4 separate regions of the Homo sapiens genome follow, and regions 2, 3 and 4 are each linked to region 1. The links come from fine-mapping of genetic effects on gene expression. A gene starts in region 1. Each other region holds a variant in brackets. All regions are shown on one strand. Distances are from middle to middle.

Evidence for each region.
Region 2: its variant is fine-mapped to the expression of LUNAR1 in whole blood (INTERVAL, PIP above 0.99).
Region 3: its variant is fine-mapped to the expression of LUNAR1 in whole blood (INTERVAL, PIP above 0.99).
Region 4: its variant is fine-mapped to the expression of LUNAR1 in whole blood (TOPMed, PIP above 0.99).

The regions. Positions count from the first base shown.
Region 1 is chr15:99,011,715-99,016,914 of GRCh38, reverse strand. LUNAR1 (leukemia-associated non-coding IGF1R activator RNA 1) reads right to left here and starts at 2,211. Exons shown (of 4, transcript NR_126487.1): 1 at 2,102-2,211. RefSeq lists enhancers at 1,023-1,152, 862-1,637, 2,003-2,102 and silencers at 1,343-1,402, 1,473-1,542, 1,763-1,842.
Region 2 is chr15:98,978,636-98,983,635 of GRCh38, reverse strand. All of the region lies in intron 2 of PGPEP1L (pyroglutamyl-peptidase I like), which reads left to right. Among named protein-coding and RNA genes, the nearest start is that of PGPEP1L, 27 kb to the left of the region's middle. RefSeq lists an enhancer at 1,510-1,559. The variant TGTTG/G (reference allele first, on the strand shown) is at 2,108.
Region 3 is chr15:99,037,130-99,042,329 of GRCh38, reverse strand. No RefSeq gene overlaps it. Among named protein-coding and RNA genes, the nearest start is that of LUNAR1, 25 kb to the right of the region's middle. The variant G/C (reference allele first, on the strand shown) is at 2,994.
Region 4 is chr15:98,943,668-98,948,867 of GRCh38, reverse strand. It overlaps IGF1R (insulin like growth factor 1 receptor), which reads right to left. Exons shown (of 21, transcript NM_000875.5): 20 at 160-294. Among named protein-coding and RNA genes, the nearest start is that of PGPEP1L, 62 kb to the left of the region's middle. The variant C/T (reference allele first, on the strand shown) is at 2,058.

The DNA of each region.
Region 1 (5,200 bases):
AATCCTTTAACTGTTTTAAGCCAACTATACTTTTCCAGCAGATGAAATTACCATTACTTTTCCCATTAAAATGCAAGGAGACTGGGTAGAGTAAGACAGATCTCTAAAGCAATCCTTGGAAGGAACCCTCTGACTCATGAAATCACTCACAGGCCTAGGGGCAGGGAGGAGCTTCTGGGAGCACCTCGGTGTAATACTGCTCTACAATAAGCCCCTAAGTGGGCAGAATCTCCTCTATTTTGTAGATGAGGAAGATGAGATTCAAAGAGCAAATCACTTTTTTTCCTCGTCCTAGTTCTCCAACATGTAAACTGGAAACAGTACTTGCCATCCACAACCGTGAAACCCAACTTTCTAGAAAGAAGCATAGAGAAAACAATCAAAAAAGAAATAGTATCTCCCCTTCCAAAACGAAAGACAAAAAACCTTTCTCGGCCGAGCATGGTGGCTCAGGCCCATAATCCCAGCACTTTGCGAGGCCTAGGCGGGCGGATCACTTGAGGTCAGGAGTTCGAAACCAGCCTGGCCAACAAGGTGAAACCCCGTTTCGACTAAAAATACAAAAATTAGCCGGGCATGGTGACGGGCGCCTGTAGAAGCAGCTACTCGAGGGGCTCAGGCAGGAGAATTGCTTCAACCCGGGAGGGGGTGGGGGCGGGGCGGAGGTTTCAGTGAGATGAGATTGCGCCTTTGCACTCCAGCCTGGGTGACAGAGACTCTGTCTCAAAACAAACACACAAATAAACAAAAAACCCTTTCTCAATCTCTAGGCCAACTAAAACGTCCACGAAAAATGTAACTAATCCATACAATTGGCTAATCGCTACCTTCCCTCCTTAACTCGCCTAAAATCAGCAGAAAAGCAACTCTAAGTCACAGCTTTTAGAGCAAGTCATAAAAGAGCGTAAATCGCCTCTAAAGTTGCCTTCCAAGAAAAGGTAGAGGAGCCTTTATGAGATTTTTTGTTCCCTACCGAGACGTGTGGCGGGAGAAAGTGGCCAGTCTGCGGCTGAGCTGCTGCTGGGGAGGGCGGGCCACCTGCGGCCAGGGCGCCTAACGGGTCGGACTGGACGTGTAGGGGCCGGAACAGCCGGTCACCGCGCCCTCCTTCCCTCGGGAAACGGGTCTCATTCTCACACCCGGCCCCGCCACATGTCCCCACAAGGAGAAGGGAAGGGGCAGGAGGTAAAGAGGCACTTTCTCAGCATCCAAGGGCGCTACTCTTGCTCCTATCCGAGCACCTCAGGGGCTGGTGGGCTTTGGGGTGTTTTGTTTCACGTGCTTTCAGATTCAGAAGGTGCACCCGCTCTGCCTGGTTTTCTGGAGATAGGGCCAAGCATGGCACCCCCTGGGGCCCGGGAAGCGACAGGCTCGGGGACGCGCGCGCTCCAGGGCCAGAAATGGCACGAAGCCCGGGCTCCGGCGACCCCGACCCGCTCCACCTCTGCGCCCCCGACCACAGCCGAGGCGTCCCGGCGCAGGGAAGGTGGCGGGGGCGGAAGGGGCGCTGGCAGTAACCCGAGCGGCCGTAAAGAATTCTCCCCCACTGTGCGGTTCCCATTTCACAGACAAGACAGCGGAGACCCTGGGAAGGCAGGGACTTCCCCACGCTCCCGCGCCTGGGAAGCAAGCCCGGGTCAGTCCCGGCGCCCGGTGTCCCCGGGGGACCTCCGAGAGAAGCCGTGACCGAGGCCGGGCGCCGAGGCCGGGGCGCGCGTGGAGTTGATGCTGGCAGTGCCTCTTCCGGCTCCCCCGAGCATTTCCTCCCCCTTCTTCCCGGGAGGGACTTAAACGCTCCCGAGGGTGAGTGCGGGGGCCCCGCCGGCCCCGCACTCGACGTCCAGGCCCCCCGCTCGCCGGTCCGCCGCTGCAGTTCAGTCCCGAGGCAACAACAGGTGCGCGGCTCGCCGCACCCCGGCGCCGGCTCCGGGGAAAGTTTCCCTGGCCGCCGCGCGCTGTTTACGGGATCCTGTTGCAGCGCGCGGGCCCGGGGCTTTCCGGCAGGTCGAGCCATTGAAACCCGAGACGCGGGGAGGAGCTGTCGCTGCGCTCCGGGAGGAACGAGGGCGGCCCTGGGCCTGGCCAGAGCGGCTCCCCTTACCTGTGACTCAACAGGCGGCCTCAGCCTCCATCCTCGGGCTAGGCTGGCGCCGCGCCCCGCCCCGGAGGCTGTCCCTGTGCCCCTGGCGTCCTCCTCCCTCTCCCATTCCTCCCCAGGGGCTGCCCCCGTTCCCCGCTCCCCGGCCCCTTCCCCTCCCCCAGGGTCACCACCCAACAGTCTTCCCAGCTACCAACCCCTGGCTCCCCAGAGAGTTTGCAAAGATTGTGGGCTCCACCTTCCCACCTGATTCGCCACCCCAGGAGAATTTACTATTTCTCTTTCATTTGTGGGGAGAAGACACCGTTAACGCCCCCACCCCCCGCTCACACGCCCACCCTCGCCGGTGCCCCGGGCCTGAACGCGGCACATGTCAACCCCCTCCCACGCCCCTTCACACTTCTATTATTTCTGTTTCTTTGGACAAGAATCATTTGCGTTAACCTTTTTTGAAAACGTTCAAGTTTCACTCCAGTAAGCTTCCTAGAAGGAAGGAGGAGGTGAGGGAGGAGAGAGAAGGAAGAGGAGGAGGAGGAGGCTTTGGCTGCAGCGGCGGCGGGGGCGGCTTTTGAGGAGGCTGCGGCGGAGGCGGTTTTGGCGACTTTGGCGGCGAAAATTTAGACAGTTGAAAAATAGGCCAAAGCACACTGAACCTGCAGGACATCCCGTAATCTTTTCTGCCCATTTCAAAGTCTTTCCCTGTCCTCACCCAACTATTACAGGCCGCTTTTGCTGAAACCTGACAATGTCATTTAGTAAATGTTCAGCTAGTATTCATTTGAAATAGAAATAACCAACAGCAGGTAATTTCTTCTTGGCCTGTTTCTGCGTGTTATCCAAGGGGAGGTGGAATACAGTGGTGGTTTTAAAATGCCAGCAGCCTAGGAACCCAAAGGCCTCAGCAGCCTGGCACCTCCCCACCCCCCTGCGGCTCTTAGGGGCCGAAAGATTGAGGGTCGTGATCAACTCAGTATACCACTGGAGGCCACGTGAGTAAGCAGCAAACTGTTTCTCATGAGAGCAGGGTGTTGGCAAACTGACAACCTGTGTCTGCCGCCCAGAAGGACTGCTGAGGGCAGTCACCACCCAGGTGCAAGTGTTTAGGATTAGACACAACTGAAGCCTGTTAGTAATGAGAACTTGTGATAATCAAACAGCTGACCAGTCTTAGGGCCTCCTCCCTGCTCATTCTCCCAATGAATGCGAAGGGCTGTGGAAGCTCGGGGGGCTGCCTTCGCTCACTAGAAGCAGGGAGCTCCCTTCTTCCCGGTTTCCCCTTCCTTTAAAACAGATTTCTTTAATCATTTCTACGTTTGTCCTTTCGTTCAGTCCTGTAATGACGGTCTCAAGTAGTAACAATAACTGTCGTAGTGACGGTCTCAAGTAGTAACGGTAATAACTGTCATAGTGACGGTCTCAAGTAGTAATTGTGGCAGTCAGCCACAGGCACACAGGACTAAAGGTTCATTAATGTCTGCTGTAAAAATGTAGAATATATTTCTTCAAGGTCTGAAGTATACATTTTTTGATGTACGTTTTTGTTACATTTTTTAAAGTTCTCTTGTTTTTAAAAAATAACATGTATAGGGCCGGGCGCGGTGGCTCATGCCTGTAATCCCAGCACTTTGGGAGGCCGAGGCGGGCGGATCACGAGGTCAGGAGATCGAGACCATCCTGGCTAACACGGTGAAACCCCGTCTCTACTAAAAATACAAAAAAAATTAGCCGGGCGTGGTGGCGGGCGCCTGTAGTCCCCGCTACTCCGGAGGCTGAGGCAGGAGAAGGGTGTGAACCCGGAAGGCGGAGCTTGCAGTGAGCCAAGATCGCGCCACTGCACCCCAGCCTGGTCAACAGAGCGAGACTCTGTCTCAAAAAAAAAAAAAAATTACATGTATAGAGCTTGAACAGTTCTTTTAAAATATGTATGTGTGTGTGTGTGTATACAGTATATATAAAGAATAATGAACTGAAAAGTTCCCTGCTTCTCATTCAACTCCTATATCCAAAGTCAGTATTAGTCAAATACCTCCTCTTTTCCTTTTAGTTTCTGAGTTTTGCGTCTCGCATGAGTATTTTGAAACTACTCCAAAACTAGAAAATAATTCTTCTAAATTTACTTCCAGTATTTTTACTGTCTTGATTTTCAGATTTGAATTTTAATCCAATCATAATTTACTGACCTATATGGCATAAGGAATGGATCTAGCTATATCTCATGGTTCCCACACCATTAAATGGTATATTCTTTCCGCTACTAATTTGAATTATCTCTTTAACTATATATTAAATTCTCATACACATTCTAGCTGTTTTATTGACAGTTTTCCTATTTCTACAACAACACTGCACTATTTTAATTACCCTAGCTTTTAGCATATATTTGGATATCTGGGAAGGCAAGCCAGTTGCATCTAGTCTTTAACATCGGTTTGCATTAACATTTTTAAAGTTTCGAATCTTCCCATTACAGAACATGGCATCCTTTGTTTTATTCGGGTCTTCTATGTTTTTTTCTTAAAGTCCCACAGTTTTCTTTTCTTTTTTCTTTTCTTTTTCTTTTTTTTTTTTTTGAGACAGAGTTTCACTCTTGTTGCCCAGGCTGGAGTGCAATGGTGCGATCTCGGCTCACTGCAACCTCCTCCTCCTGGGTTCAAGTGATTCTCCTGCCTCAGCCTCCTAAGTAGCTAGGATTACAGGCATGAACCACTACACCTGGCTAATTTTTGTATTTTTAGTAGAGATGGGGTTTCACCATGTTGGCCAGGCTTGTCTGGAACTCCTGACCTCAGGTGATCCACCTGCGTTGGCCTCCCAAAGTGCTGGGGTTACTAGCGTGAGCCACCGCGCCCAGCTAATTTTTGTATTTTTAGTAGAGAACAGGGTTTCACCATGTTGGCCAGGCTTGTCTGGAACTCCTGACCTCAGGTGATCCACCTGCCTCGGCCTCCCAAAGTGCTGGGATTACTAGCGTGAGCCACCGCACCCCGCCAGTTCCACAGTTTTCCACAAAAGGATCTCATACATTTCTTGCCAGGTTTATTCCTAGAGATTTCTGATATTTGAAGGGCATTGTGGATGGGCTCTTTTCTCCAATTACATTAG
Region 2 (5,000 bases), 33 kb after region 1:
CATCATTATTCCCTGGTTTCTGGATACTCTAATTTTGGAGCCACTACCACCTCATATTCATTCAAAAGAAATTACATGCTTAGCTCTTAAGTGCCTCAGCCTGGTGAGTCAGCAAATAAAACAAGGGTTTTTGAAAACACACCCAGGGTCAGTTGGGCCAAGACATTACGTAACTGCACTTAAAATACAGCCTAGGCAGCCAAGAGGTCAGGGCTCTTCTCATATTTGATAAACTTGACATGCAGAATAATTTCTCTTTGCCCCAAAGATGAGGTGGCCTGGTGCCTTTCTTACATGTTGCTTTAAATAATAATAATAATAATGAATAAAGAGCCGTGAATCAGAACAGTCAAAGAATTTCTAAGCTGAACGGTGCTTTAGGATGAAAGCTGAGTCCTGTTCAGGGATAGGAAAGTAACTGCAAACCTTTCCAAGTGAAAGAAAATTGTTTCTCTTGATTCTTCTTTTTTTTTTTTTCCCAAGAGAACCTTTATTCTTCCCACCAAATCCCAGGACAAAACCTTTTTCCAACCTAGGTGAATACAAACACATATATGACAGACATTTTTCCAATTAGTCCAGAGTGGGTTTGTTTTGTTTTCTTGACTAAAATGAGAAAGCCTCAGGCTGGGTGCGGTGGCTCACGCCTATAATCCCAGCACTTTGGGAGGCTGAGGCAGGTGGATCACTTGAGGCCAGGAGTTTGAGACCAGCCTGGCCAACAGGGTGAGACCCTGTGTCTACTAAAAACACAAAAATCAGCTGGGCGTGGTGGCTGGTGCCTATAATCCCAGCTACTCAGGAGGCTAAGGGATGAGAATTACTCAAACCCGGGAGGCGGAGGTTGCAGTGAGCCAAGATCATGCCCCCGCACTCCAGCCTGGGCAACAGAGCAAGACTCTGTCTCAAAAAAAAAAAAAAAAAAAAAAAAAAAAGCCTCAGATAAAAATAACCAGAGTGAGGAGGAAGGGAGACCTCAGACATCTCTCTAGTTTACACAGACCTCACCTATGATAGCCCCCAGCTCAGCGTCAACCATGTCCTGGGCACCCGCTTCAGTGGGTTATCTGAACATTGGCCTCCACGGTTGGATAACCCAAATGCACTTTCCCATGACGTCTTACACCTCCTTTTTTCAGTCTGGTGACTGTAGTGTGAGCCCCACCTTGTTAGTGGGAAGAGAAGTAACCAAGTGGTGATACACAGTTCACTCTGGCCTTGGAACAGCATGAAATAGGACTGTCCTTGCATTCTCACTTCGAAATGACACAAGAATCCACAAGAATCCACAAGAATATGGGGACTGTGTGAGTCCATGGCAAAGAGCCTGTGCTCTCATAGTCCCAGTCGCCTGCACAAGGGGCCGCACTCCAGGGAGCTCCCAAGGATCGAGGCGAGTGCAGATGGAATCCACACCTTGGTGGAGGAGACCCCACGGTCCACATGCATGGAGGGTGTCTGCTGTGGCTTCACAGTCCTCCCCACAAACACCGTGCTCCTAGTAAACGCTCAAGGAAACATATTTTTTCTGCTTATTTGGAGAAAAGTTTGCTATTCACAGACAAGTGAGTCATATGTTTAGTTCTAGCTAAACCCCAAATCCATTCCCACGTTGACAGGAAGACAAGCCAGAAAAACCAGACCAAGATGATCTTTCAGAATGACCCCCACATTTTTCCCGGATGTTACTGTGGGTCCCCCTACTTCCTACATGGCCCCCAGCAAGTCTAGAGTCCTTACCCTTTTCCAGGGTGCTAAACAGAGCAGCCTCTCCAGCTTGTTCCCTGTTTATTTTTTTAGACAAACTTTTTATTTAAAAATACGTTTATATGTACAGAAAAGTTGTGAAGATAGCACAGAATATATATTCCTCAATTCTTCCCATTATTAACCTTGTACGTTAGTATGGTGTATTTGTCACAATGACGGAACCAGTAGGAATATATTACCTTTACATAAAGTCCATAGTCTATTTGGGTTCCCTCAGTTTCCCCTAATGCCTCTCTTCTGTCCCAGAATCTCAGCCAGAACACCACATTCATAAGTCCTCGAGTCTCCGTAGGCTTGTCTTGGCTGTGGCCATTTCTCAGACTTACCTAGTTTTGTT[TGTTG/G]TTTTTGTTTTGTTTTTGTTTTTTTTTTTTTTTTTGAGACGGAGTCTTGCTCTGTTGCCCAGGCTGGAGTGCAGTGGTGCGATCTCGGCTCACTGCAAGCTCTGCCTCCCGGGTTCACGCCATTCTCCTGCCTCAGCCTCTCGAGTAGCTGGGACTACAGGCGCCCGCCAGCACGCCCGGCTAACTTTGTATTTTTAGTGGAGACGGGGTTTCACTGTGTTAGCCAGGATGGTCTGGATCTCCTGACCTCGTGATCCGCCCGCCTCGGCCTCCCAAAGTGCTGGGATTACAGGCGGGAGCCACCGCGCCCGGCCAGACTTTCCTAGTTTTTGATGACGTTGATGGTTTTGAAGAGTCTGGCCAGGAATTGATAGTTTGTTCCTCAATTGGGACTTTTCTGCTGCTTTTCTCATGATCAGACTGAGGTTAGGGGGAGGAAGACAGAGGTAAAGTGTCACTTTCATCCTGTCAGATCAAGGGCACACAGTATCAGTGTGACAGCACTGTCCATGATGACCTTGATCTTACTTGGTGGAGGGAGTGTTTGTCAGGCCTCTCTACCATACAGTTAATTTTTTTTTTTTTCCTTTTCCAGATGGAGTCTCTCTGTGTCACTGAGGCTAGTGTGCAGTGGGGGTGATCTTGGCTCAGTGCAAGCTCTGCCCCCCAGGTTCGAGCAATTCTCCTGGCTCAGCCTCCTGAACAGCTGGGACTACAGGCACATGCCACCACGCCTGGCTAATTTTTGTATTTTTAGTAGCGACGGGGTTTCACTCTTTTGGCCAGGCTGGTCTCAAACTCCTGACCTCAGGTGATCCGTCCACCTCGGCCTCCCAAAGTGCTGGGATTACAGGCGTGAGCCACTGCACCTGGCCACCATACAGTTACTTTTTGTCCCCACTTCTATCCTGTCCTCTTTGGAAGGAAGTAACTCTGCGCAGCCCACACTCGAGTGGGGGAGTTCCTCTCTGCTTCAGGGTAGAGGAGTTACATCGGTTACTGGGAGTGCAAGTGCATGAGAGAGCTGAGTCCTCCTCCTGGACCCACTTACTTATTTGTTTACTTATGTATGTAGTCATTTCATTAGATCAGGATGGACTCATGAATATTTATTTCTCATATTTTGGCCTATGGCTTGTTTCCTTTTGAAAGTCTGTCTCCTCCTGAAACCTTTTCCTCCCCCCTCCTCCCTTTACTATCCTAGGACAATGCCTCCCTGATCGTTCAGGTTTCTCTGCTCCAAGGGAAATGGCACGAGTCCACACTTTGTTTTTATGGCTGTGTGTTTAGCTGTATTAAAAGTTAGACTAAGTTGGACACTTTTCATTTATTTATTCTTTATTTTCATAAGTTTTTGGGGAACAGGTGGTATTTGGTCACATGAGTAAGTTCTTTAGTGGTGATTTGTGAGATTTTGGTGCAGCATCACCCAAGCAGTATACATGAACCCAATTTGTAGTCTTTCATCCCTCACCTGCTTCCCACCCTTTCCCATCGAGTCCCCAGTGTCCATTGTATCATTCTTATGCCTTTGCATCCTCATAGCTTAGCTCCCACTTATGAGTGAGGACATATGGTGTTTGGTTTTCCATTCCTGAGTTACTTCACTTAGAATAATAGTCTCCGAGGCAGGCAGATCACAAGGTCAGGAGTTCGAGACCAGCCTGGTCAATATGGTAAAACCCCATCTCTACTAAAAATACAAAAATTAGCCGGGTGTGGTGGCACTCGCCTGTAGTCCCAGCTACTGTGGTGGCTGAGGCAGAAGAATCGCTTGAACCCGGGAGGCAGAGTTGCGGTGAGCCAAGATTGTGCCATGGCACGCCAGCCTGGGTGACAGAGTGAGACTCTGTCTCCAAAAAAAAAAAAAAAAAAAAAAAAAAAAAAAAAAGAATAGTCTCCAATCCCATCCAGGTTGCTATAAATGCCATTAATACATTTCTTTTTATGGCTGAGTAGTATTCCATCCTATCTATATACCGCAGTTTCTTTATCCACTCATTGATTGATGGGAATTTGGGCTGGTTTCACATTTCTGCAATTGCAAATTGTTGGGCACTTATTAAATAACCACACTACTTATATATAGAAGTCTGTGCTGTGTTGCTATGTGCATGTCCTCCTGTTCTTGTACTCATCGCCTACCATATTTTATTGATGCAAAGAGCCAGGTGTTTTTTGGTTTTTTTTTTGTTTTAATTTTGGCATCCTGAAATCAGATGAATCTCACAGGCAGCTGCATCTTATGCTTTGTCATAGTTGAGCAGTACTTTTACTGTCTTGCTGGTTCGTACAGTAATGCTCGATGTTCCATCTCTGGGACTTAGATTTGATGAAATCCATCACATCCTTCCTGGGTTACGCACTCTGTCAGCATGGGAAACAGTCTGACCTGTTTATCTTGTTTCACAGAATCCAGACCAGAATCTTGAGGGCATTGGGGCTATATTTGTGCTGCCATAAATGTAATAAAAATATATATATATATATATCCTGTAGCCAGGCGCGGCGGCTCACACCTGTAATCCCGGCAGTTTGGGAGGCCAAGGTGGGCGGATCACGAGGTCAAGAGATCGAGACCATCCTGGCCAACATGGTAAAACCCCATCTCTACTAAAAACACAAAAATTAACTGGGCGTGATGGCGCGTGCCTGTAGTCCCAGCTACTCGGGAGGCTGAGGCAGGAGAATTGCTTGAACCCGGGAGGCGGAGGTTGCGGTGAGCCGAGATCATGCCACCGCACTCCAGCCTGGTGACAGAGCAAGACTGTGCCTCAAAAAAAAAAAAAAAAAAAAAATATATATATATATATATATACACAGTCTAATGCTAGAGAAAAAGACACAAATAAGTGGGGCCCTGGAAATCAGGCAGGTTACTTAGGGCAG
Region 3 (5,200 bases), 25 kb before region 1:
TTTATTTGGCCAGGTGTGGTGGCTCACACCTGTAATCCCAGCACTTTGGGAGGCTGAGGAGGGCAGATCACCTGAAGTCAGGAGTTTGAGACCAGCCTGGCCAACATGGTAAAACCCTGTCTCTACTAAAAATACAAAAATTAGCCAGGTGTGGTGGCATGCACCTGTAATCCCAGCTACTCGGGAGGCTGGGGCAGGAGAATCACTTGAACCCAGGAGGCGGAGGTTGCAGTGAGCTGAGATTGCACCACAGCACTCCAGCCTGGGCAACAGAGCAAGACTCCATCTCAAAATAATAATAATAATAATAATAATAATTTTATCAACCAAATGGTGTATCCATAAAACTACAGCATTGCTTTGCCGAGTTAAAGAATTTAAGACTTCAAGTCTCTTTTAATCTGTAAATTCCCTCTCATCCTTTTCTTTTCCGTAGAGATAATCTCTTGGGGAACCTGGGCTCTCCCTGAGTGGTTTAGCTTCCTTCAGCTTAGAGTTTGCTGCTCACATCCTCACAGTACACTGCATTTCTCTGCCTTCTGTATTTCCAGAAATTTGGGCAGCTGGATCCAGAAACTGTATCAGATTCAGATTTGATCCCTTGGTTTGGCAAGACAATAGGAGGCATATAAAGCCCTGTTGTCTCTTTTATTGATGTTAGCAGTTGTTGATGCTTAGTGCCTACATCTAATAATTCACTGGGGATGCAAAATGGTGACATTCTATCTTTTTTATTGTTTTGTTATTTAATGGTTGTAATACTGTTCTAAGGAGATCCTTCTCCAACTGCTATCTGGTTACCCAGCAGTACAGTTCATATAGAAACGGGGATAGATGCTAGATTCTTCCTTTATTCATCAGTTTCCAAGATAATGAATTGGTTTCCTGTCATCCTCTGAGGGTGACTAGTTCTTTTTTATTGTTTCAATATTATTATGTACTCACGAATTTAAACATTATCTTTACTGTAGCTTCAAATTATTCTGACTTTGGCTAGTGCGAACCTCTTTAGGTTAGTTCTTGAGTCCTTTGGACATGATGCTAGAAGTCTTTAACATTGCTGCTTTCTGATATGACAAGATGTTCCAGGACCAGACCTGCATTCAGTCATTTCTGCAAGAAGTCCTGGTCCTTTGTCGTGTGATGTGGAACTTGAATACATAATACCAGCACTAGGAAAGCTCATTTCTCTAGACAGGTCATTGTTTCTTTTCTGTGGCGCTAAATACTCTCTCTCTCTCACACACACACACACACACACACACTCACATACACACACACTTCTGAGTGTTTCTAATTCTGATGTATTAGAACACATATTCAAATATGTTGTACACATATGCACAATTTTTTTGAGACTGAGTCTTGCTCTGTCACCCAGGCTGGAGTGCAGTGGCATGATCTCTGCTTACTGCAACCTCCACCTCCTGGGTTCAGGGGAATCTCCTGCTTCAGCCTCCTAAGGAGCTGAGACTACAGACACGTGCCACAACGCCCAGCTAATTTTTTGTATTTTTAGTGAAGATGGGGTTTCACCATGTTGGTCAGGCTGGTCTTGAACTCTTGACATCAAGTGTTCTGTCCTCCTCAGCCTCCTAAAGTGCTGGGATTACAGGCATGAGCCATTTTGCCTGGCCAGAATTATATATTTAAAAACAAAATAGCTCATGAGTCAATACTGATACTTCTAATTCAAAACTACCCCAATTTTATTTAACTTCTTCTGTATTACACCTGTAACTCCTTTCTTCTCTATCACAAATCCTGGTTCTCAAGAATACAGGGAATTATATAATTAGAATTTCTCATAATTAATAATTTCCTGAATCCCATAGTACACACACAACAGACATGGAATAAAAATACTAAAATACTAATTTACTATCAATATGATTATTTAAAACATTAAAATAAATCTTTTTCATATGTTCTCCCATTCTCTCTCCATTTTTCTTTTTTTCTTTTTTTTTCTCTTTTTGAGACAGAGTCTCGCTCTGTTGCCAGGCTGGAATGCAGTGGCGTGATCTTGGCTCACCGCAGCCTACGACTCCCTGGTTCAAGCGATTCTCCTGCCTCAGCCTCCCAAATAGCTGGGATTACAGGCATGTGCCACCACACCCGGCTAATTTTTGTATTTTTAGTAGAGACGGGAGTTTCACCATGTTGGCCGGGATGGTCTCGATCTCCTGACCTTGTGATCTGCCCCCCCCTTGGCCTCTCAAAGTGCTGGGATTACAGGCGTGAGCCACCGCGCCAGCCCTCTCTCCATTTTTCAAAAGCTGTGCTATGTATTATCAGAATATATAGTCAGGACAGTCTATACACAATCCTTTTTAGCCACTATTCAGTCTTAATTCTACAAGTTAAATTTAATCCTTGCCATCTGCCTTCACATCGGTAAGGGTCATTTTGGTTGTCTGAAGTTTTGTTCTCTGCTAAACTTCTTAGACTCATGGAAACAATATTCCCTTAGATCTTTCTTGTTGATAATAGTTTGTTTTTAATATTTGAAATCCAATTTTTCTGCAATATAAAATCCTGGATGCACCTTTTCTTAAATATGTGACTATTTTTTTTTTCTGGCATAAAGTACTGCTTTCAAAAAGTCTAATGATGATCTATTATTCTTTTCTATTCAAGTTCCATTCTCTCTCTCTTTTTATGCCCAAATAACTTTTATTTTTATTATTTATTTATTTTAGAGATTGGGTCTTGCTATATTGCCCAGGCTGGTCTCGAACTCCTGGCTTCAAGTGATTCTCCTGCCTCAGCCTCCCAACCAAGTAACATCTCTAAAGTACAGTAGTTATACTAGAATATCTCCAGGTGTTAATAACTTTTTGTCAATATTCATAAGTACATAGTGTCCTCCTGAACATGTAATTTCAAATCCTTTAATTACAATTTTAGGCACGTTTTCTTGGGTTAATTATAGTATTAATATTTCTTTTGGTCCTTCTCTTGGTTTGCTTTCTCAGGTTTTCTTGAAGAAG[G/C]CATATAATCCTTGGCTATCATTTGCAACTGTTACTTTCTCCTAAATCCTCTTTATCCCTTTCTTCATTTCTTTTTTGTTTGAAAACTTTTTAAAAATCTTATATTCCTCTTAAGGCATTATTTGTTGTTTATTCTTTCCCATGTTCCATCTAGTTTAGTTTTCATTTCTGAAGTGAATTTGTCTTTTGCTTCTTAATTATTTCTCTCACTTCATTTCTAAGTGTTTATAACGCTGATGTATTTCCATGTCTTTTATAATTTTCTTAATGTTTTTAATTGTTTTGAAATAGTAAATTACATTTTTTGGTCTATTTTGTGGGCATGACTTTTGTGTGTTTTGTTATTTTTGATCCTTATTCTCTTTTTAAAAAATTCTAACTTTGTACAGAATTTGACCTTAGTTTTAGGTGAAATTCATATTCTTGACTTTAGAATGAAGTGGGGTTCAGGAAAATTTTCTAACATAAAGTGTCTTCTTCTGTTGTTTTTGTGCAATGTACATTAAAAATATAATGGCTTACTTTCTGAGATTTCCCGTCTCTGGTTCCTTCTCCTATTTTGAACTGGACCTTCTCTTTCCTTCATCTATATTGTCTTCATCCTGCTCAGTTTTAACTCTACTTCCAGCACTTTCTCCTCATTGGGACTGTGTCTCAGAAGGAAGCCCTAGACAGCTAGCTTTTAGGGTTCATGATCCATATATATCATTGCCCAGTATTTGCCCCTCCTAGATTCAACTGCTGTTCTCAATGTTTTCCAGCAAATTCCTACTGGGGTTCTGCTATTCTCAGGTATATCAAATGCCACTCTGTTGCTTCTTTTTTCCCCTTTCCACACAGATTCCAAAATCATAAAGATCTTGAGGTTATTGGTGGTTTGTCCACATATCCACTTGTATTTTAGGGTTTTTGAAGATATCTTGTCACAGTTTTTTGTAATTGTTGTTTGCTAATATGTGGAGATTCAGTGCAAGAAAAGAGCTGTCACCACTACAATTCCCCTCATCTCTCTCTCTTCTTTTAACCTCACAAGAAACTATGATTATTTTATACAGTCAATGTTTATTTAGAATTGGCTATATATTCTTTCTTGCTTCTTCATTCCTTCTTTATCTTCTTTCTGGGACAAATTTCTTTCTGCCTTTAGAATTTTTTTTTTAATAAAAGTCCACCAGTGGTGAAGTCACAGTTTTTGTTTCTGAAAGCAGATTTTTGTTTGTTTGTTTTGCTCTTATACTTGAAAAATGTTGTCTTTAAGTATAGAATCCTTGGTTGGCAGCCATTTTTTTCATTCTACTGAAGATATCATTCCACTATCTTATGACTTCCATTCTTACAGCTGATAAGTTAGTTGTCAGTCTGTCACTCCACTAAAGGAAGTACATCTTTTTACTCTGACTCCTTTATGACTTTCTATTTATTTTAGGTGTGCTGATGTTTCACTACAATGTATCTAGATTTTCATTTACTTATCTTGCTTTGAATTCATTGTTAAATTCATTATGGAATGATTCATTATTGAATTATCAGCCATAATCTTTTAAAATAATGCCTCTGTATCATTCTCTCCCTTCTCTCTTCAGGGACTCTGCTTAAACGTATGTTAGATCTTCTCTGTTTATCTTCCATGTCTTGTAACTTCTGTTCTGTATGTTCATCTTTTTGTTCTGCATCCTGGAAAATGTCTTCCAGCATATCTTCCATCTTATTAAATTCTTTCTTTGGCTATGTCTAGAATGTTTTTACATGCATCTATTGAGTTCTTCATTTCAATTCTTGAACTTTTCATTTGTAGAAATTTTATTTAGTTCTTTTTCAAATCTTCTATCATACTCTATAGTTTCCTATTCCCTATATACATTTTTAAAGCTGTCTTTAATCTTTAAATGTAGGAAGCATATTTGTTTATGATCTGTGTTTGACAGATCTGAAATATGAAGTTCTGAAATATGAAGTCTTTAAATGTTTCTATTTTGTATTGTTTCTTATTTTCTCATTCACAATGTCTATTTTCCTATGTGCTTGATTATTTTTAGTGTATGCTGCTTTTTGTCACTAAAAACTATTTGTAGGAATAATTTGAGATCTAGAAGGAAGTACTCTCACAAGAGGATTTGTGTTTGTTTCTGTTGAGTATCTCAAATCACTACAGTCTGAGTTTCTTTCAAATGAGGTTCACAGCTAGCAGGGGTTTAGTGCTCTCAAAA
Region 4 (5,200 bases), 68 kb after region 1:
CTCAGCTCCTTCCACAAGGACAAACCTCTTAGCCACGCCTGGCAAGGGAGGCGCAGGACCAGAGAGAATGGCTTTAATCTCCTAATCTCCTGTGACCCAAGAAAACAGGTATTTGAGAAGAGAACTCAGAAGAGCACGGAGGGCCCAGGAAGTACGTACAGCATGTCAGGACAGTTGTCTGGCTTGTCCAGAAGGCCGCCCTCCATGACGAAGCGAAGGACTTGCTCGTTGGACAAGCCCTGGTAGGGCTGCTCGGCCAGTGTGGCGATCTCCCAGAGGACGACCCCGAAGGACCTACAGGGAGAAAAAAACTGTGAGGAGCTTGGAAAGGGATGGACTGAACAATGCTGCCCCCTCCTTTCCAGCACTTCTTACATCCCGAGCAGATAAACTGTCCTTACTATGGTGACAGTGCTTGTCAGACAGCGAGCCAGGCCCTGGGCTAAGTGCGGGATATCATCCTCCCTCTGTTGCTGCTAATGTTCCCCGTAAACTAAATTCAGCCCCGGTGGTGGAGCTAAGGAAGGTGGTGAGGGCGCTTCCGGCATCCCTTGCACGGTCAGGAAGCCCCTGATCTGTGCTTTGAACGCAGAGCATACTGGGTTCAGCATCTACCTAGTCCCGGCCATTTATCTGGCAAGGCGGTATCACCTAACCTGGCTTTGACCCAAAAAGAATGACATTCTTGTCCAAGCCCCAGCCTGGACATTGACTTAGTAGCCTCAAATGAGGCCTGGGACAGTCAAGCTTTACCAAGCTCCTCAGGTGATTTTTACAATCAGACAATTTTGGAAACCTCTACCCAGGTGGTTCTCACTGCCGGCTGCACAGGAGAATCTCCTGGGGAGGTTTTTAAACAGAGGGCTGGGCACCCAATAGAAACTCTGATTTGATTGGTCTGGGGTGAGGGCCTGGGACCTGGAATGTTTAGAAGATCTATAGGGATCTTGAGGTCCAGTTGGGCCAAGGGAGAAGAGAACTCCTGCTGCTCCCCCACCCACAACAGAGCTGGGGAGCTGCTGGCCTGCAGGGCCTCTGTGTCACAGGTGGGGGGACCAGGGTGGGCTGCACTGGCTGGGAGGGGGTATCATGGACAAAGAATCCTTAAGCAGAGAAGTTGGCTGAGGAATAACTTTGTAGTGAGCAATTCTGCCATATGCATGCAGCTTTGCCAGTTTAGAAGATCAAACCACTGGAAAACAAAACAGAGAGTACACACACAACTTTCAGACAGAATGTTAAAAAAGACAATGCTGGAATCTGCAAAACAAATGTGCCCTCCCAGGGCAAATTCCGTAATTCACAAATTCTCCCTGACCTGTGTGCCTTTCCATGTGGTTCACTTTGGTGGAGTAAAATAGGCTACTCATCACCAAGTAGGGGCGGGAGCAGGGTGGGGAGCAGGGATTCTAGCTGGACCTGTCCTGGGCTGCAGGTGCTGGTCAAGCCACATGGAAAAACCTGGGGCAGGAGATTTCCAACCAAGAGCTCTTGGGACCTTGACCTTGTGCCCAAGCCCACAGTGCTCCTGACTGTATGAGAACGTTTTATTCGCTGCTTCAGCTACTTTCGGTGAATCAAAGATTTTTGTACAAATTGATACTAAAAGTAGATGTTAGACAGAAATAGAATCTTAGCAATCAGAGGACAGACCAACCCAAGGTCCTTTTTAATTACAAGTGACCAAGAAATGCTGTCGTCTTCATGTTGTACAAGACACCCAGAGGCCAAAAGTGCAGTTTAGAGAGGCCTGGGCCCAGGGGAGAAGGGGCTCTCCATCAGCTTTGTGCGGGAAGCTCTGCCTTCCACAACCAGCCCAGCCATACAGGCAGCATGCCTCAGATGCCAGTGGCAGTAGTACCCACACATCTGAAATGCAGCTTGGTACAAGAAATGACTAGCTCTCCAACAACAAAAAATTAAAAATAAAATAAGAAGAAATGACTAGCTCTCTGCTTTTGCTGACTGCAGGCTGGTCTGGGAAATGGCCTGAGGATGTGGCTCCCTCCCAGACCCACTTCTCCTCTTGCCCCACGTGCCCTTCCTGGCTGTGTCAG[C/T]GGCTTGCAGGCAGCCAGTTCTCACGGCACGGCTCCCACCCTGGCCCTCCCGGCCCAACTGCTCCATTCCAAGTTCCCAGTTACTGGGCTACCCACAAACTCACTGCGTCTCACACTGAACTCCGATTTGTGCCCTGTTCTTCCCCCGGCTTCCCTGCAGCTGATGCCCATTCCACCCGAGCAGTCTGCCTGCTGTCACCCATGCCCTTGGCCTCCTCGGAGTCCCACTGCGAACTGTCCACCCAGGCTCACATCTGTCCAAGGTCTGGCACCCTCCTTCCGTCCCTCAGAGCTCCCTGAGTGTGCAGGATCCTGCTTGCCTGGCCCACCACCACCTCTCCTTTGGTTACAACATCTTGCTCAATGCAGCTGTATACTCCGGCTAACAAGAACTTCAAGCACAGCTCTAATCACCCTCTGGTTCAGAAACCTTAACAGGGCTTAAAGAATTAGTCCAGGATGCCTAATACAACAGCTGAGGCCTGTCTTGATCTCTCTGCAGCCTAAGTCCCACGAGGAAACCTCACCAACCCCACCTGCAGCAGGTGCTCCCTACTGCCATGCCTGCCCAGCATTCCCACTGCCAGGAACCCCCCACCCCTGCCCCGCCCCGCCCCGCTTCCTAGTGCTCTTTTTGTGACAATCCATACTTAGGGTGCCTACACAACTTCATCTCTTCTGTGAAGAAGATGATGCAACCCCAAACTGTCAGAATTGCCTCCTCTTCTCCACAAGACTTTATCCTTCCAGGACCAGGACGACGACGACGCTGTCATCGTCGTCATCGTCATCATCGTCATCATCATCATCCCCGCATCTTCCACACCCCCAAGAGCCTTACCATCACCCACAGGCAACGATACAGGAGGTAGCAGACCTAGCTCTCCACAAACGCTTGTCGAGGTGAACTGCAAAGCCTATCTCCTGAGCAACTCTTGTCTGAGGTCAACATCACCTGCCACTGAGGACCACTGAGTGCTAGAGTCAGTCGTCCTTCACAGCTTAATGTGACAACTGCAAGGTGTGGACACTGAACCATCTCTACACAATACCAGTTGCCACAGGAGCCATTTCAACATCTATTCAGGTACCGCAGACTTCTCGAGACAGACCTTGCCTTACAGATGGAGCAACCGAAGGCCAGAGAAGCTCTGAGGTTTAACCAAGGCCACACAGCCAGTCAGAAGCACCGAGAAATATGCAACACCTCTGTGTTTTTCAAAGCCGGTATTTTACTATGTGGTGTTGGCTCTTCATGACTTCATATAAAATCAAGTCTTCCATTTCATGGACAGATTTAATCTTCAAACAGTAGATACATGTCTCTGTGTAAAGCCCTTTCTAATTAGGAACCTTGACGTTGTTTCCCCAGGGGGAAGACCGGCGGCTGTGAGTCCCCCTGCAATGCCCGTGCTGGCTGGAGGCAGCATTCAGTAACTATACTTCCCCACACCAGGAGGGGATGGTAGCAATGGCCCACTCACCAGCAAATTAAAACCTACAGAGAAATCCACATTCCCCACAGATGGTAATTAGTCATGAAAGAAGCAAATAACCTTGGCTATTTGTGACTATTTGGAAAGCTTCTTAATAAAAAATAAAGATTATGTGTTGGGTGATCCAGATGCTCGGGAAGAAGCACAGCTCTAGGCTGTGGGGTGCAGCTCCCCAGTCCTTCGTCTGGTTTCCTCCATGCCTAGAGGGCACCCTTGTCATTTCAGAGGGACATGGTGCTACAGGGAGCTGCAGGGAGAGCAGCCACAGTGCCCAAGGGCCTGGGAATGAAGTCCTGGAAGACAGCAGGAAACTTGGAGGTGTTCTGGCTAGAACAGACACACCTCTTCGATGACTCCTAGACCTATCTTATCAAGAACAGAGCAAGGTATGCAATTGTGCTACAGAGAGAAGGTCCAATGGGTGTCACACAGAGGCTGACGTAGCAGAACACGAAAGATTTGCTAAGAGCAAGGATGTCTAAAGCATGAGGCTGGCCTGCCTTTGTGAGGCAGTGAACATGGAGTCCCTGGAAGGAAACCTCTTAGCAGAAGCTCAACCAGCAGCTGTCAAAGATCTGCAGGTGCACTGGGGACTGGGCCTGACTGCAGGGATACATCCCAAATCCTAAAATTCTGGGGTCTCTTCTACAAAGCCCAATACAATTCTTAGTGTTTCTTTCTAGATTTTTAACTATTTAGGAATCATTGCTTCGTGCTGCTGAATACAATCTGAAATCATTTCCATTCTTTTGAGAGGGACAGCTTTAGTTTAGAGCCTGGACCGCTGAGAAACCTGCTCCAACGCCCTAGCCTTCCTGACCTGTGCTATCCTCAAAGCCTGTGTTAAAAAGCAAACAAAACCTGAAGCGCTGTCAATGCCTGAGCATTTCATGGAATGAATACCAAACGCCTATTCATGTTTATACATATCTTTTTGTATTGGTTCACAGTAGTTATGTAGCCAAATGGACAGAATTGGCAATGAACACACTCTAGGTCCCTTTGTTGTTGCTTGTGCAGTAACTGCTCGTCAGAATTTGGGTAAAATTTGCCCGAGAGATATGAACAACACTTTATCCTTCTATTCTGCTTCTGTTCTCCCCGGCTGTATAGTTTTCTATTTTATTATACTACAAGCTGACCTCCAAGCTCCTGGAGGCACGAAGCCTAGAATAAACAGATGCATGCACATACCCAGGCTTGCTCTCTCCTCACCATCCCAATCTCTAAACACCATGCAGAGCACTTTGATTTGACAGTGAAGAGATAACCATCTTGGACAAGCTGATTGCAAAACAGATCTCATACTTGAGCTTAAGAAGCAATCATGCTTTGCCGGGTCATATTCAAATGCTATTTCCAATTTGCACCTGTCTTCAAAATAAGATCCAAGGCCCCTGAACTGTGAAAGGTTTACGAGGTTAAAAAAAAAATGATGTCAGTCACTATTGAAATAGTTCCTCTATGCGGTCATCCAGACTGTTGGAGTAAACAACTACCATTTCTGTAACACAACAGCAACGGGATCCCCCCAGAGGAAAGCCAAGACACTAGCTGATATTCTAGAAGGTGCCTGTGCCAGGGCCTCAGCCTGCCAATAACCTCAGTTGTATTTCAGAACCTGACTGCCTCTCTGCAATGTTGCCA